Linked DNA regions of Homo sapiens. The protein of the gene in region 2 purifies or fractionates together with the protein of the main gene of each other region. This does not show direct contact. Each region holds a gene or a part of one and is shown on either strand. Other genes may lie near its edges. The genes, in order: ATPAF1, MRRF, MMAB, IBA57 and SARNP.

Region 1 (2,584 bases), on a different chromosome or scaffold from region 2:
CTCTGTTACCCAGGCTGGAGTGTGCTGGCATGACCATAGCTCAGTGCAGCCTCAAACTCCTGGTCTCAAGCAATCCTCCTGTCTCAGCCTCCCGAGTAGCTAGGACTACAGGCTCATGCCACCACATCTGGCTAATTTCTCTGCCTCTGTCATGTAGGGTGGCCTGCTCACCATTTCTCTGCTATTGCTCACCATTTCTCTGCTACTGCCCTTCTCTTCCCTGGGCCTTTGCTGATGTATTAGTTATAAATGGCTGCATAACAAATTATACAAAATCTAGTGGCTTAAAACAACAAACATTTATTACCTCGCAGTTTCTGTAGTAGCAGCTTAGCTGAGTGGTTCTGGCTCAGGGTCTCACAAGGTTGCTGTCAAGATGTTATCTAGGGGTATAGTCATCCGAAGGTTGATTGGGCTTGAGCGTCTGCATCCAGCCCCACTCACATGGCTCTTGGCAGAGGCCTCATGTCTTTGTCGTGTTTCTCCATAGGGCTGCATGAATGTCCTCACTACATGGCAACTGACTTTTCCCAGAGCAAGAAAATTAGCAAGAGAAAAGTTACAACCTTTATGGCTTGATAGCAGAACTCATTCTCCATCATTTTTCATTTTTTCATAGTCTTTTTTTTTTTTTAAGGGGCTCACTACATTACCCAGACAGGCTCAAGCAATCCTCCTACCTCAGCCTCCTGAGTAGCTGGGACTACAGGCTCACACCAATGCCCCCAACCATTTTGTCATAGTCTACTTGTTAGAAGGAAGTCACTGAGTATAGCCATTACCCAAGGAAAGGGAAATTAGGCTCCATCAAAGGGAGGAATATCTTAAAATTTGTGGGCAAATTTTAAAACCATCACAGCTGGCTCTGGGAGTACTTTTCTGACCAAGGTAGTATCATAACAGGTTTTATTCAAGTGTATATCTGGTTAGTCAAGAACTTAGTTCTCACTCACAAACTGGTTCTTAGAGCTGGGTAACTGTTGCTGTCTTATTCCCCCCTTGAAATATATTTAACAGTTATTAGGGAACTGGATGAAGAGGAATAATGTGAACATGTACATTAATTTATTCAGTAAACATTCACCAGATGTCACTCTGCAGAGATATAAAACAAACCACGGTCTATGTCTTTGAGGAATTTGTACTAGGGAAAATAGACAAAAAAAGAAAAGGAAAAATACAATACAGTGTGATAAATACTATGACAGTGGTAAGCACAGGATGATTTGGTACACAGAGAAGGGGCACCTAACCAAGACTAGGGACTTCAAGAAGTTAAGGAAACTTTCTGGAAGTGGTGACTCCTGGGCGAGGGCCCCCACCCACCACACAATTCAGACAAGAGCTTTGTGGCCCTGTGCAAGAAAGGACCTCATTATTCTTTTTACCTTACAGAATGTTGCTGAGGCACAGTGCATCGCCAACCAAGTTCAGCTCTTCTACGCTACTGATCGGAAAGAGACCTACGGGTTAGTGGAGACCTTTAACCTCAGACCAAATGAGTTCAAATATATGTCTGTCATCGCTGAATTGGAGCAAAGCGGACTTGGAGCAGAACTGAAATGTGCCCAGAACCAAAATAAGACTTAGAACTGTACAGGTTGGCCCTTCACCTAGTTGACTCAGCCCTCGATAGTCTAGAGCCCACCCCCTCCTCAGGAACTCAAGAGCTCAGCATTTATAATGAGCAGTTGGTAATGAGTTGCCCTATGTGCTTGTCGCAAGCAGTCACAGAGATGAGCCCTATTACTTGATATTCAGGAACAAAGGTACCTGAACATTCTGATAATTATCTCAGCATACTTGAGGTTTCCTTTTTTAAGTGTTCGAGGTTATAACAAGAGACAGCCAAGGACCTACAAGACAGTTGACTTGATTTTGCACAGTGTAACAGCGCAGTTGCATTCTGGCCACTTTGACCTTATAGCTCCCAAATGATGAGTTTGTCATCTTTATGAACTCATGACAGGATAATAAGCTTGAAGACCTGCTGTAGTTAGATATGGGCTTTAATCCTTCCCAGGCACCAGTCAGCTGAACAAAAGCATAAGCCAAACATCCTGTTTAAACTGTAGAATAACCAGATATTCCCATCAGGTTAAAGACTTCATCTAGATGATGCCCCCCAGAGATGCCTTTAGTGTAAGTAGCTGGCTTGGGGTATCAGCAAATTTCAGGTATAGTTAGATAAACAGGTACAGGGCCTGCATACTATTAAACCATAGTTTGTGGCACCCGCTTTTCTAACTCCACCTGTTAGAAGCTATGTGTTTGAAGGAATGAATCAGTGCAGTATAAATAAAATTCTTTTGTAAGGAGAAGATTAATCCTGGTTTGCATGATTTTTTTAAAAACAACTCTAAACATGATACGAAAAAGTGGATGAAAGCAAATGTTCCCAGATTGGATGTGGGGAAAATATAGCAATAATTTTTTTTTTAAGTCTGGCTTACAATGTTTGTTATACAAAATAATGAAATCTGAGTTATGTACTGTCCATTGTGTCAGGGCTATGGGCTGATTTTATCAAAACTCATCTTGGGACTGAAAAATTGTTTGGAATGCCAGAAATAAGAAAGTTGTT
Region 2 (3,520 bases):
AGAGAAACAGGTACTATTGCCAGCAATGTAGTAGTGTCTGTGTATTCAGCATAAGGAATCATTTGTTCATGTTTGAGGTGAGGACAGTTAAAACAGAATACCTCTGATCTTTCATTCACATTATCACCATTGTCTGAGTCTCTGTTCTGGGCCTAGCCTAATGCCAGATTCAGAGGGATCCATAGAGGAGGATAAGACACTTGTATTGTGTACCAGGTTTTGTGCTGAACACTTTATATTACTTCATTTACCCTCATCACTACAAAACTATGAGGTAGGTAGTAAGGAAACTGAGATTCAGGCAAGTTAAATAACTTGCCCGAAATCACACTGCTGGAAATTGGTAGAAATCGGATCCATACTTAGGCAGACGGATTTCAGAGCCTCTACGCTAATGCTCTCCTGTCTGGTTTTCCGGTTGCTGAGAATTGAGCACTTAGTGTTCTCAGTGTGCTGAGTAGTGGCACTTGAATAAGTCTTAAGCTGCTGGAGTAAAATAGTGAGAGACAAGGGGGAAAAGTGTAACCATATGTACAAAGGTAAGGTGATATAAAAACAATATTCAGTTAAGATCATTGGGGTTTGAACGTAGGATAAGACTAGGGAATGAATAAAGAAAACAGAGTGGCTAGATAATAGAAGGAAGGTCTCGTACACCAGGTTTAGGAGTTTGAACGTTAACATGTACAGACTGTCCCACATTGGCTGTGCATCTATATTAGTCATGTATGGCCACAATAATGGTACATAACTACCCCAAAACTCAGTGATCGACAATATCAAAGCATTATTTCTTGTTCTCATTTCCATGGGCCAGCTGGGGTGTAGCTATTCTAGGCTGGGCTCAGTGGGCTTGGCTCCAGATCTTGGATTGGGTTCAAATCTGCTTTATATCTCTCAATCTTCCAAAGCCAACAGGTTTCCTAGGGCCTCTTTTCATGGTAACAGCAGATGCCAAGATCATAAGCCCAACCACTCAAGTACATTTTAAACACCTGCTCTTGTCACATTTGATTGGCCAAAGCAAGTCACATGGGCCAAGCTCAATATGTTTGGTACAAGGAAATATATATATTTATGGAGGTCTGGGGAAAGAAGTGAATATTTGCTGAACAGCATCTCTCTACCAAAGTACCTTAATCACTTGGGTAGCTTATAAAAATCCAGGTATCTGGGGCCCCATTTCCAGAGATTGAGTCAATGAATCTGGGACAGAGCCAGGAATCTGTATTTTAAATCCTTCTCAGGTGATTCTCATACAGTGACACACTTAAAAGATTTTTTTTAGATGATGGAGAGAGCACATCTATGTTTATGAAAGATGACTATGGTGGCCAGGTAGAAAACAGATTGTAGGGGGCAAGACTGGAGGCAGGGCGATAGGGATGCTGCTGCAGAAATCCAGCCAGGAAGTGATGGTGGCCTGAACCTGAGTGGCACCTGTGGAAAGATGTGGAGATAGAATTAGTAATGTTCAATGTAATATAAAGGGTTTGATAGGCCTTAAAGCCTCCTCATCCACAATAAAGCATTGTTTTAGGGAGATTGAACAGGCATGTGGGCTGGATAGGGAGTGAAGAGAGAAGCGAGAAGCAAGGGACCCCTGGAGAAGTCCATAAGTTGACTAGCTGCTCCCCTTCTCCTCCACCAGCAGTTAAAATGCTAGTTTTACTAGCATTTTACTAGTAGGACAGCCACAACAGTCACCTGGGGGGGGGAATTTTAGGTGGCTTCCTGGGCCCTACTCCTGCATTTTCTGATACAGTAGCTCTGCCTAGGAATGTATATTTTTATTTTACTTACTTTTATTAATTCATTTTTCTTGAGATGGGGTCTCACTATGTTGCCCAGGCTGGTCTTGGGCTCCTGGGCTCAAGCAGTCCTCCTGTAGCTGGGATAACAGATGCGTCCAGCTGGAATGTATAGTTTTAAAAAGCTCTCAGGTAATTGTGTAAAAGCACACATAGAAGATAATGACCTAGAAGCCTGGTAATGTACCTGTGTAATGACACTAGAGTTAGAAAAAGATTGTTCTGCACTTGATGTCCTATGACCTTGGGGAAGTTGCTTGACTCTTTGGAGTCTGTTTTCTGTAAAAAGGGATTGGTAATTTCTGCCTTGAATGGTTTCCTTGGTATGCTAGAAAGCACCATTAGTGTACCTAACACCCAAACCCTCAAAACTCCCCTCTTGCCATCTCTCTGCCCTCCTCCTTCCCTGTATCAGCTAAAAGAAGAGGTTCAGAGATTAGGCGGGCCTTTCCTGTGCACTGACCAGGCCTCATTAATAGTCTGGGCCCTGGCTCCAGCTGGGCCGGCTCCTTGTCTTTCTCCTAGGGGATTTCTTCACTGCTTTCCCTTGTCATTGCTTCTTGGTGGTAAGCCTATGGACCTTCAGGGCCTGCCAGGCACTAGTCACTCAGCAAGCCAGGACATCTGCCTCAGGGACCAGAGCCCACAACTCCTGAAAGAGGAAGAATGATCAGATAGCAAGCATTCTTGATAAAACCCTCTTGACAAAGACCTTGCTGGAAGCCTTCACTCATTAGCACTGGCTTTTCGCCATCCTCTTCAGATTAAATTTTTTTTCTTTAGTGCTTCTTACTGTGATTTTTTTAAGTGAAAATAGCTGTATTCGTTTTGCTGTTAAAACAAGGAAGAAAGTAATTGAAATCTCATCACTCAGATGACTGTTGTTAACATTTTAGTGTAGAACTTCAAGTTATCTCTCGAAACAAGAAAAAGTATCATACAATTTATATGATACGATATATCACAGATATCTTTCTAAACATATTATTATTTAAATGTTTATTTTTATTTATTTTTTATTTTTGTCACCCAGGCTGGAGTGCAGTGGTGCAATCTTGGCTCACTGCAACCTCTACCTCCTGGGTTCAAGCGATTCTCCTGCCTCAGACTCCCGAGTAGCTGGGATTACAGGCACGTGCCACCATGCCCTGCTAATTTTTTTATTTTTAGTAGAGATGAGGTTTCACCATGTTTGCCAGGCTGGTCTTGAACTCCTGACCTCAGATGATCCGCCCACCTCAGCCCCCCAAAGTGCTGGGATTACAGGCATGAGTGCCCAGCTAAATGTTTATTCTTAACCAGGATTGTTAATAACTTAATTTACTGTCATAGAGTTAAAAGTTTGGAACAGTAGAGAGCCTTATATATACTTCATGGTGTTCTTTCTACTGTCAGAAGGCCCCAGACTGGAATTTTTGGTGTGTGTGTGTGTGTACGTGTGCGTGCATGTTTTAAAGATATAAAACAAGGTTATGGCTGATTGTCGCTTCATCAGACAGTTTTAAAATTTTGTTTACTTTTGTTCCTTATTATCAAAGTAATATATGTTCATTGGAGAAAGTTCATCCTCCCCTCCCACATTGGAGAGGCAACCGCTCTTAACATTTTGGAATATTTCTTTTTTCCTTTTTTCTAAAAAAAAAAAAAACTACATAGTTTTAAACATGATTGAGAACATATAGTATATATACAATTTTGTATTCAGCTTT
Region 3 (3,520 bases), on a different chromosome or scaffold from region 2:
GTTCACCCATCCACCTCCCACCCAGCCTTGGCACTGTGAGGGCGGGGACAGTGTCTGGTTCACCTGGGAGCCCCGCCTGGCCTGGTAGCCGCTCGCAGGGCCTGTGGATGAGGCCGGGCAGCAATGCCACTGCTTTCCTCATATCACCCATTTCACCCTCACAGACACCCGTGAGGTGGAAGTTAATGTCCACAGCTTATAGGGAGCCAAACTGAGCCTCAGAAAGGCTGACTTGCCCAGCCCCCACAGCCAGGCATCAGTAGAGCTGGAATCTGATTCCCAAACTGGTGCCATTTCTCCCCAGCCCTTGGGGTACACGCTGCACGTGGCCAACCAAGTGGGTAGTATTATCACTCCCGCTTTGACTGTGAAAGTGCAGAGACCCCAAGCAGGGAAGCAGCTTGCCCAAGGTCTGCTGGTCAGAAGCCCTGGGAAGGTTCCAGCCCAGTGCTGGATGGGCAGCCTCTGCTCTCACACACCATGGCCTGCTTCTTGAATGCTGTCACAGTGGCCATCTTAGGAGAGGTCAGAAGTCGCAGACCTTCACCCTCCTGGTAGCCCACCATCCAGCTTGAGTGGACCCTGGCTGGGCACAAAGTCAGAGGTGGTACTTGTGGTCTTCACATGCATGAGAGCTGTTGGACATTTGTCATGCAGGGGCCTGGAGTCCTGCAGCAGACCTTAACAGACCACTTCTGTTCCAAGCAAACCCACTCCCCACCTGGACAGAGCACAGGCCTCACCCAGCCAGGCTTCCTGCTCCCAGAATCCCCACACGCCTCGGCTGACTACATTCTCCAAGCTCCTTGTCCTTTAGAGTTTAGAAAGCACTGTCACATTTGACCTCTTGGCCCAACTGTTACAGGTTAGAAAACCAAAGCTGTCAAATGTTGAGAAAAGAAGAAAACCTCACAGGGCCTAGGTGCACAGGAGACGTGGACAGAGCCCAGACGGTTCCTCTTGACTGTCCCTGGGTGTGTGATGCGTGTCATCTGCTTAACCCAGCTGCTGCCCCCATGGGAGCCTTTTCCTCCCTCAGACTGCAAAAGAGCCACACCAGGTCCCCCTCAGCAGGGCTGGGTGTCCAACGAAGATGTTGTGCTGAAAGTTCAGAGTTTGCTTTCAAATGTCAGCCAGTTCAAGGTCTGATAGCCTGTATTAGTCTGTTCTCGCACTGCTATAAAGAACTACCTGAGACCGGATAATTTATAAAGAAAAGAAGTTTAATCTGCACATGGTTTTGTGGGCTGTACAGGCTTCTGCTTCTGGGGAGGCCTCAGGAAACCTACAGTCATGGCGGAAGGCAAAGGGGAAGCAGGTACATCTTCACATGGCTGATAGGAGAGAGAGAGTGTGAAGAGGGAGGTGCTACACACTTTCAAACAACCACATCTCATGAGAACTCTATCACAAGACAGCACTAGGGGGCTGGGGCTAAACCATTCAAAACTACCCCAATGATCCAATCACCTCCCACCAGGCCCCACCTCCAACTCTGGGGATCACAATTTAACATGAGATTTGGATGGGGACACATTGCCAAACCATATCACAGCCCTTCATGAGCTAGCTGGCACAGGCTTTGCCGGCGTATTAGGTGGCGCCTCTGCACATTGTCTCTGTCCAGCCCATCTCACATAGATCTTGACTGTCACTTTCTGTCGCCCCCCAGATCCAGTGCACATTGCAGGACGTCGGCTCGGCCCTGGCGACACCATGCTCCTCGGCCCGGGAGGCTCACTTAAGTAATTCTCAAACTCCTGTGGGTGTTCAGAGGGCCCTAGGGTCAGGGGACTCTCCTAGGGTCACCATCTGGGATCCCAGGCCCCCAGGGACCCACGGGTGGGTCAGTTAGCCTTGCTCGTAGCTCCTGGGAGGGAAGGTACCTTCTGAGCCAGTGGAAGCAGTCTGCGGGACACCCAGGTGGAAGGGCGGCGGGGGTGGTTCCCGCCATGGTCTGGTGGGTGATGGCCTCATGGCAGTTCCCTCTGCTCCTTGGCTCCTCAGAGTATACCACGTTCAAGGCGGGGCCCATCCTGGAGCTGGAGCAGTGGATCGACAAGTACACCAGCCAGCTCCCACCACTCACGGCCTTCATCCTGCCTGTAGGTACTGGGCAGGCTTAACCGGGGGCGGCTGCAGGCAGGTTCAGTGACAGACACACATGGGCTCTGAATAAATCCCTCTTTTCACAGTGACAGACGCTGTCCTCCAGTTCCCCAAGTCCCTCCAGGTCCTCACCGGTCCCTCCCAGCCCTGCCCACTCTGGAGCAGCGTGCCCGGTGGGTGTGCCGTGGCAGGGCTCCTGGAGGCAGAACACTGCCCGGTTTGGGGGGCAGGGCTGGACTTCAGAGGAGCTCCTGTCCGCAGTGGGCACACCTTTCCCACCCTGCTCAGGCAATGTCCCTTTCTCCTTTCAGTCGGGAGGCAAGATCAGCTCGGCGCTGCATTTCTGCCGGGCCGTGTGCCGCCGGGCCGAGAGACGGTAAGAGGGCTGGAGAGAGGGAGAGGGCCCAAGGGAGAGGGAGAGGAACAAGGGGGAGGGGGGAGGGAGAGGGAGAGGAGGACGGAGATGGGGAGAGGGAGAGGGGCCTCTGCACAGCGGGCAGGAGGCAGGTACAGCAGGGCCATCTCTGAGCCATCCAGCCACACATCAACAGACCTTGTCTGGGCCCCTCCACTGTGCCAGACGGGGACCAGGACAGACCAAGTCCCTGTCCTCAGAGCACCATGTTGTGAAGTGGAGACAGTGACATGTGACCAAATAGACTATCAGACAACACAATTGCACCTTGTTTGTGAGCCCTGTATTCTGAGAACAGCAGGAAGTTATTGCTGGGTTCTCAGCCTCAGCCATCTTGGGGACAGGGGTAGACATGAAAGGACCCTGCTGGCTGCTGGGTGCATAAGGCTCCTGAAAGGCCTGCATGGCTGTGGGGAGCCCAGGTGGACGTTGTCAGCAGACTAGCCACCACCTCCTCCAAAGCTACTGACAGCCTTTTCAAGGAATCTTTAGAAGAAAATGAGCAAAGTCTCTATCTACACCACTCAGAGACCAGGCTGCCAGCCAGCTTTACAGAGAAGAGAAAGCAAGCCCTACTTTGATCCAATGGACTGGCACTTTATGTTCATAATTTCATTTACTCCTTGTTGATAGCCCTGGGAGAGAGGTGGTGGTGGCCTCTGTTTTACAGGAGTCAGGAAGCTGTGGCTCAGAGAAATGACACCATGGTCACGGTCCCCCACATGGTTGATAGCAGAATCCAGATTGGAGTCCACGTCTGTCTGGGCCAAGCCTGAGCTCTTCCACGGTCCCACACCACTAAGGTTTTGTTCTTTATGAAAGGCTCTCGGGCCCAGATAGCTCCTTAGAGATCCCAGGTAACAGAACAAGCTTTGGCTTCAAAAGAAAAAACTGTCATTTGTACAAAGCCATCCATCAGCAGTGCTCATAATAGCAAGAAACTGGAAACAACCCAAAGGCCCCGAAAACAGGCATGGCGGAGCAGCTGATAGGTCC
Region 4 (3,520 bases), on a different chromosome or scaffold from region 2:
TTCACACGTGATAAAACTGCAGTTATACACATGCGTGCACAGACGCACAAAGTAAGACACACAAATCCAGAGACCCCAGATATGCCCTGTGTGTGCAATCAGGGGAACTGGGGAGGGGTCCGTGCGATCTCTCCCACGGGTTTTGTTTTGTTTTTTTTTTTGCAACTTCCTGTGAATCTATAATTATTTCAAAATAAGAAGTGAAAAAACAACAACAACAACAACAAAAAAAAAAAACAAGGAGCTTCGCCTGCAGAGGTGTCCGAGCACTACAAGAGGAAAGGCAGCAGGCAGTCCTTTCATCCCAGCCATCTGACATCAGCGAGTTTTTAACCACGTGCATGCATATTTGTATTTTTAAAATCTATAGTGGGGTCAGCAGACAAAGATGGACCAAAACACAGGTGAGTGGGGGACCCGGGCAGAGGGACAGATGTGAGGTCATGGGCACAGGATGCTGGGCGCCGGACAGGCAGGGAGGAGCTGAGCGACGCCAGGCAGTAGAGGGACAGAGTAAGGGGACTAGAGTGGAGCTGAGGGACCACAGGTCCAGGGTCTAGTGAGCCAGGCACACAGGCACAGGGGAGGCCGCAGAGCCCTACAGGGCAAGGGCAGGAGCTGGGGCAAGGCAGGCAGGGTGGGGCCAGGGTGCCCCATGGGTCCATCAGTCAAGAGTGGAGCCCAGAAAAGATCAAGCTGAGGGCCCCTGCACTCTGAGGTGGGGCCAGCTCAGCTGCCTGCCTTGGCAGGAACCCCCACCCATGCTGACACCCCCTGCTGCCCCCATCTGCTGAGCACTCCCTGGCCTCACACAGGGTGGATGTCCTCACAGGACCCAGGTTCTGGGGTCGAGGGCACTTTCCAGCTCTCTGTGCCGGTGACTGTCTACCAGGCAGCTTCTCAGGACCAGCTGAGCTGGGACATGACCCCCGGGCCCACCCCAACCCCTGCCACACCTGAAGACTGCCAGGAGACTTGCCTCACAGGAGAGCCCCGGCCTGGGGAGCTTTCTCAGCCTCATCATTCTCCATAGTGGGGGCTGTCCAGATGCTAAGCAGCACCCCTGGCCTGTACCCCACCCCATCATGACAACCAAAAATATTTCCAGATACCGCTGAGGGGCGCAGGGGACAGGGTTGCCAAAGAAAATATAGGGTACCTGGTTAAATCAGAATTTCACATCGACAACAAATTACTTTTTTTAGTATATCCCAAATACCGCATAGGATGCACCTACAGATCATCCGTTGCTCGTCTGAGACGGACCTGGGTGTCCTGTGCTTTTGTTTGCTGAGCCCAGAAGCCCCGGTGGGAGCAAGGGTGCAGGAAGAGGAGGGAGGTCAGGGGTGGCTCTGGCCCAGCCAACTGAAAGAAAGGGTCCCCTGGCCATCAGATCCAAGGGTTTCCAGTCATGTTCAGGAAAACACTGCTCTGGGACCCGGCCTGACTCCTTCCCTTCTCTCTCCTCCCTCCTCCCCAGGCCACCAGAGGCCTGACAAGTCTCTCCTGCTCCTCAGTGCTGGCCAGACACAAGGCCACAGCCCTGACACTCTTGGGCCTGCTGAGCCCTGCACTGAGTCCACATCCTTGCCCCGGCCAGCTCGCAGCAAGGCCACTGGACCACAATCCTACCTGCAACATGACCCTACAGCCTCTCTCTGCCTCCTACATGAAGAGAGATCAAAACCAACTGATAGAAAGGGACCCTAAGGAGGCCAGGCATGGTGGCTCATGCCCGCAATCCCAACACTTTGTGAAGCTGAGGCAGGAGAATCGCCTGAGCCCAGGAGTTCAAGACCAGCCCGAGCAACATAGTGAGACCTCAACTACCTGTAGTCCTGGCTACTTGGGAGGCTGAGGTGGGAGGATCACTTGAGCCCAGGAGTTTGAAGGTACAGTGAGCTACAACTGTGCCACTGCACTCCAGCCTGGGCAATGGAGCGAGACCCTGTGTCTAAAAAATAAAAACAAAAAAACTCAGACCCATATGAAAATCTGCACATGGATGTTTACAGCAGCTTTATCCATAATTGCCAAAACTTGGAAGCAACCAATATGTCCCTCAGTAGATGAGTGGACAAATAAACTGTGGTCCATCCAATGGAATACTAACCAGTACTAAAAGAAATTAGCTGTCGGCCGGGCGCCGTGGCTCACGCCTGTAATCCCAGCACTTTGGGAGGCCGAGGCGGGCGGATCATGAGGTCAGTAGTTCGAGACCAGCCTGACCAACATGGTGAAACCCCGTCTCTACTAAAAAAAGATACAAAAATTAGCTGGGCGTGGTGGTGCATGCCTGTAATCCCAGCTACTCAGGAGGCTGAGGCAGGAGAATCGCTTGAACCTGGGAGGCAGAGGTTGCAGTGAGCCGAGATTGCGCCATTGCACTACAGCCTGGGGGACAGAGCAAGACTCTGTCTAAAAAAAAAAGAAATTAGCTGTCAAGCTATGAAAAAACATGGAGGAATCTAAACGCATATCACTAAGTGAAGAACGCCAATGTGAAGAGGCTACAGATGCATGAGTCCAACTACAGGACATTCTGGAAAGCATGAAACTATGGAGACACTGAAAACATCAGTGGTGGCCAGGAGTTAGGGGAGATGGATGGATGGGCAGGGCACAGAGGATTTCAAGGCAGTGACACTACTGTATGTGATGCTACGATGGTAGACATGTGTCATCATACATTTGCCTAACTCATGAACACACCAAGCCAAGAGTGAGCCCTCATGGAAACTGTACTCCAAGTGATGATGGCATGTCAACAGAGGTTCATCAGTTGTGACGAAAATAGCACTCTGGTGGGGGAAGTTGTGAGGTAATATGGGAAATCTCTGCACATTCTGCTCTTTTGCTGAGAACCTAAAACTGCTCTAAAAAGCAACTCCTATTAAAAGACAACAACCAAATAACTATAGTTTCATCTGAAAGAAGGTGCTACATTCAGGAAACAAGAATAGGGTGCTTTAAGGAAGCGATGGCTCAGGATGATATATTAAGTATCAAAGTTGAAATAAAAAATCCTACAGTCAGGAAAAAACCATAAAGGAATGATGGGCAGGGAATGACCAGAGAAGCAGGAACACACAGAGGCTTCCAGGGAGAGGTGGTCCCTGACCTGCAGGCTGCCCTCTCCCCAGAGGAGTGACCAGAGGGGGCAAACCACAGAGAGGGAGGTCAACAGCCAACAGCAGCCCGACAAGGAAAAGAGTTTACACTCTCATGAACTGAACTAAACGTGCCCAACGAGCGCAGCCCTAAGCCCACCCATGCCACATAGCTGGGAGGGGTGGCATCTGGACACCTGTCACCCACCACCCCTGGGGAGACACTCAAGGAGGTAACCTTGTTGTGTCCCTCTTCTGACGGCTGAGGAGAAACAGGGCCATGAACTCCAACAGAACTGAAGCTAGAGGGTTTCAAGTATTATTACACAGATGCTGAATCCCACGGAGGATGGTCCCGCCCCACCTGACCCCTCAGAGTGGAGCTCCCTGGCCTGTGACGTTGTGTCACA
Region 5 (3,520 bases), on a different chromosome or scaffold from region 2:
ATACATGCACTCTTACATGACTAAAATGGGAACGTACTGTTAATATAATTTTGTAACTTTTTTCATTAATATCTCTGATAAATATCTTTCAATATTATTTCAGCACAGTAGTCTGCTATACCATGGCACACATTTAATAACTAATTCTCTGTTGTACAGTTGGTTGTTTCCAGTTATTGATCACTATAAATAATGCTGTGATAATCCCTGAGGCTAAGTCTTTATGCACATTCAAGACTATTTCCTTATACGTTCCTAGAAGTAAAACTGTTAAGGTAGAAGATATTCTTTTCCCTTTTATCACTTATAATAGCCAGTATAACACTAGATAGTATGCAATAATTTTATGCAGTTGAGACCCCAGAATAAGTAAGCAAAGTACTAGAGAAACTTCTTTGAAGATGTTCAAGAAAAGACAGACAAATGTTGGCACTTCCTATCCTCTCATAACATTCAGTATCTCTCTTAATTGCCCAGGAAGGCCTAAGTATAATTTTACCTAAAGCAGGAGATGAATGTTACAATCTCTTAAAGAGTTTCTACAGCTAGCAAATTTACCTTATTTTGGAGAAATAAAACCTGTTATACCAGAAAAGAAAGAATAAAAAGGTAACTTTCTCAGAAGTATCTCTGTACTCTTACCTTTTGTTGGAACTGAAGAAATCCCAAACCTGAAGAAGGAAAAACAAACTAAATTTTAGGAAGCTGTTCACACTCCTGGTTTGTCTGTCTCCGTGTCAAGTATACATATGACACTTCTTGCTTGTGATCTCAAGCCTTGCAATCATTAGCTAATTCTAACAACCCCATGAAAGAGGTTCAGAAATTAAGCTAAAAGGAAGCCTTATCAGAATTAGTAGTAGTCAGTTCCTGGCTTTAACTGTTACAAAAACCCTTCTCAATAAAGCTCAATTTATAGCTACTATAACCAAATCAGTAGACATGTTCTGAATAGGGTCAAAAAAGTGTTCATATCCTTCAGCAAGCCTCTATTCTACTTAAAATCAACAATTATACCTAAAAGCTAGGATCACACATCTTCATCTTTACAACACCCCTATCAGAGGCCCAAAAGGCTGGGGACACTCACCTAGCTGCCCGAGCAGCTTTCTTACTCTCCAAGCTCACAGGTACATTGAATCGTTCAGCCCTCTTCTGCATTCTCTAAGTAAAAATAGACAAAAGGGAGAAAAAAAAGTCAATTTATGGTTTAAGAAAGTCAGTCAGAGGTAGGTATCTTTAAAAAAAAAAAAAAAAAAAAAAAAAAGAGTCTCACTCTGTCCCCCAGCCTGGAGTGCAGTGGCATGATCTCGGCTCACTGCAACCTCAGCCTCCTGGGTTCGAGCGATTCTCGTGGCTCAGCCTCCTGAGTAGCTGGGATTACAGGACTGTGCCACTGTGCCCAGCTAATTTTTGTGCTTTTAGTAGAAATGAGATTTCACCATGATGGCCAGGCTGATATTGAACTCCTGGCCTCAAGTGAACTGCCCACCTCAGCCTCCTAAACTGCTGGGATTACAAGCGTGAGCCACCTGGCCCAGCCAAAGGTAGGTATCTTAAAAACATCAGAAGTAATTTCTTAGGGTCTAAACTGAAAATACTGACAATCCTAGAAGATATCAGGTTGTGTCCATGCTAGGACTTAACGGCCCTTCCCACAAAGCAAACAAAAAAAGACTATTACTAGATGCCCTCAAAAACAAAAGGGAGAAATAAAGTAAAACCTACATTATGCATGAAGCCAAGAAGTCAAAAGCTATGTTTGGCTGACCTTTGAAAAGTGATCAAAGGAATAGCTTGGTTCCAACACCAATGGTATTCTTTCAGTTAGAAATGAGGCAGCATTGTTTTATGCCATTCTAAAAGAGTTTAATAATTCTCTACTTTGCAAGTATGATACTGAACACAAGATCTCAAATGGAACCTGGTTTCACAGTCCTGCACCACAGAAACCAGAGAAATTTCAATCTCAGCTACTGGCCAGTAGCAACATAAGAGTCACATCTACCAATACATTTTCAAGGTACAATCCTCCTAAATCTAATCCTAGGTTTGAAAACATCTCAAAGAGAGTCACTGTTAAGACCATAATATTACATATAAAAAGACTACAACTTCAAGAATGACTACCCCTACGCCAGCCAAATATTTTCCAAAGAGTAGCTGGCAGTGAAACGTATCAACACCAAAATCTGCCAATACTGATTTTCTGCCTGTGAATAAATTTTAGAGGATGATGCAGATATAATAAAGGGTAAGAGGGAGAGAGAAATGTAGAGACTGTTCTACTAGGGAGCAGAATACCTACCTCAGTCTGTGGTATTTCAGATGTAATTTTCACCACTTTCTTCTCTGCTGCCCTAGAAAAGAAAGAGATTTTTTAAAATGAGAAAACTGATATTCTAAACCACAACCTCAGAAATGTGTAAGAATTCACCTGAGTCACCATTCTCTGCCCTATTATCTCTCTGCCACCCCCTAAGCCAAAGAAACATGAAGTCCACTAGAGCTTTGGTTCCTTTAACTGTCATCTATTGAGAGGAAAGAGTTCAAATAACAAACTAAGCTTCTTTAGCTAAAGTATAATAAAGAAATAAGGAAAGAAGTCTGGTTAAATATACTGGGCTGAAGGGAAACACTCAAAGGACACCAGAAACCATCTCATTTGCTTTTAGGAACTTTTCAATTTACTTTTATTTTTCTGAGACGGAGTTTTGCTCTTGTCGCCCAGGCTGGAGTGCAATGGCACGATCTCAGCTCACTGCAACCTCCACCTCCTGGGTTCAAGAGATTCTCCTGCCTCAACCTCCTGAGTAGCTGGAATTACAGGCACCTGCCACCACGCCGAGCTAATTTTTGTATTTTTAGTAGAGATAGGGTTTCACCATGTTGGCCAGGCTAGTCACGAACTCCTGGCCTCAAGTGATCCACCCACCTCGGCCTCCCAAAGTACTGGGATTACAGGCATCAGCCACCGAGCCCAGCCTTTAATTTACTTTTGAACTAATGAGTAACCCTCCAATCCTCCTTTAAGTACCACCTCCCAATGTTCATCACAACAATTAATAAGTACTCTACAAGGTCTGGTTTCCTTCTTTTAAAAATCCCTTATTTCTCCCATGGGGAATGTAGCTCTAGCTGGAACAGTCAAAGTGAAACAAATAAAAATGCCAAAGAAGGTAGGAAGAAAAAAGTCTAAGGGGAGTTTGAATTAGGAAAACATGGTAAGCTAGTGGTCAAAGGTTTAAGAGGAAACAAAAGAGGGGGGACCACAGGGGCGGGAGACAAAGTTCGGAAGTACCCACGATAAATGGAAGGGCATTAACCCTCCACCAAACAACTCCCATAAAACTGTGGGTCATAACCAGTCTCATTAAGGTCCCTCATTTAGAGACATGGGCAGCTTTTGTTCCAATATCCTGAACACTTTTCCCATTTGATGCCCTGAAAGGTAGTAATGGTTTAATGACATTTTCAGAGGAAGCAATTCTGGAATAAGAACTTACTCTCTTCCACCCTT

What was found.
Region 1: the proteins of MRRF (region 2) and ATPAF1 purify together in Homo sapiens (affinity purification with mass spectrometry; one large-scale study listed by BioGRID and IntAct). This does not show direct contact.
Region 3: the proteins of MRRF (region 2) and MMAB purify together in Homo sapiens (affinity purification with mass spectrometry; 2 studies listed by BioGRID and IntAct, with this or other methods). This does not show direct contact.
Region 4: the proteins of MRRF (region 2) and IBA57 purify together in Homo sapiens (affinity purification with mass spectrometry; 2 studies listed by BioGRID and IntAct, with this or other methods). This does not show direct contact.
Region 5: the proteins of MRRF (region 2) and SARNP fractionate together in Homo sapiens (co-fractionation; one large-scale study listed by BioGRID). This does not show direct contact.

What each region holds. Positions count from the first base shown.
Region 1 is NC_000001.11:46,634,782-46,637,365, reverse strand, and holds part of ATPAF1 (ATP synthase mitochondrial F1 complex assembly factor 1), read left to right. Parts: intron 1-1,395; coding exon 1,396-1,590; 3' UTR 1,591-2,584. UniProt on the Homo sapiens protein: Has a complex stabilizing activity in the assembly of the mitochondrial F1-F0 complex.
Region 2 is NC_000009.12:122,313,377-122,316,896, forward strand, and holds part of MRRF (ribosome-recycling factor, mitochondrial isoform 1 precursor), read left to right. Parts: coding exon 1-10; intron 11-3,520. UniProt on the Homo sapiens protein: Responsible for the disassembly of ribosomes from messenger RNA at the termination of mitochondrial protein biosynthesis. Acts in collaboration with GFM2. Promotes mitochondrial ribosome recycling by dissolution of intersubunit contacts.
Region 3 is NC_000012.12:109,560,005-109,563,524, reverse strand, and holds part of MMAB (corrinoid adenosyltransferase MMAB precursor), read left to right. Parts: intron 1-1,672; coding exon 1,673-1,745; intron 1,746-2,007; coding exon 2,008-2,105; intron 2,106-2,195; coding exon of another isoform or gene 2,196-2,282; intron 2,283-2,420; coding exon 2,421-2,485; intron 2,486-3,520. UniProt on the Homo sapiens protein: Converts cob(I)alamin to adenosylcobalamin (adenosylcob(III)alamin), a coenzyme for methylmalonyl-CoA mutase, therefore participates in the final step of the vitamin B12 conversion.
Region 4 is NC_000001.11:228,168,786-228,172,305, reverse strand, and holds part of IBA57 (iron-sulfur cluster assembly factor IBA57, mitochondrial isoform 1 precursor), read right to left. Parts: intron 1-3,520. UniProt on the Homo sapiens protein: Mitochondrial protein involved in the maturation of mitochondrial [4Fe-4S]-proteins in the late stage of the iron-sulfur cluster assembly pathway. Operates in cooperation with ISCA2 in the maturation of [4Fe-4S] proteins.
Region 5 is NC_000012.12:55,793,717-55,797,236, forward strand, and holds part of SARNP (SAP domain-containing ribonucleoprotein), read right to left. Parts: intron 2,361-3,520; coding exon 2,309-2,360; intron 1,165-2,308; coding exon 1,091-1,164; intron 672-1,090; coding exon 643-671; intron 1-642. UniProt on the Homo sapiens protein: Binds both single-stranded and double-stranded DNA with higher affinity for the single-stranded form. Specifically binds to scaffold/matrix attachment region DNA. Also binds single-stranded RNA. Enhances RNA unwinding activity of DDX39A.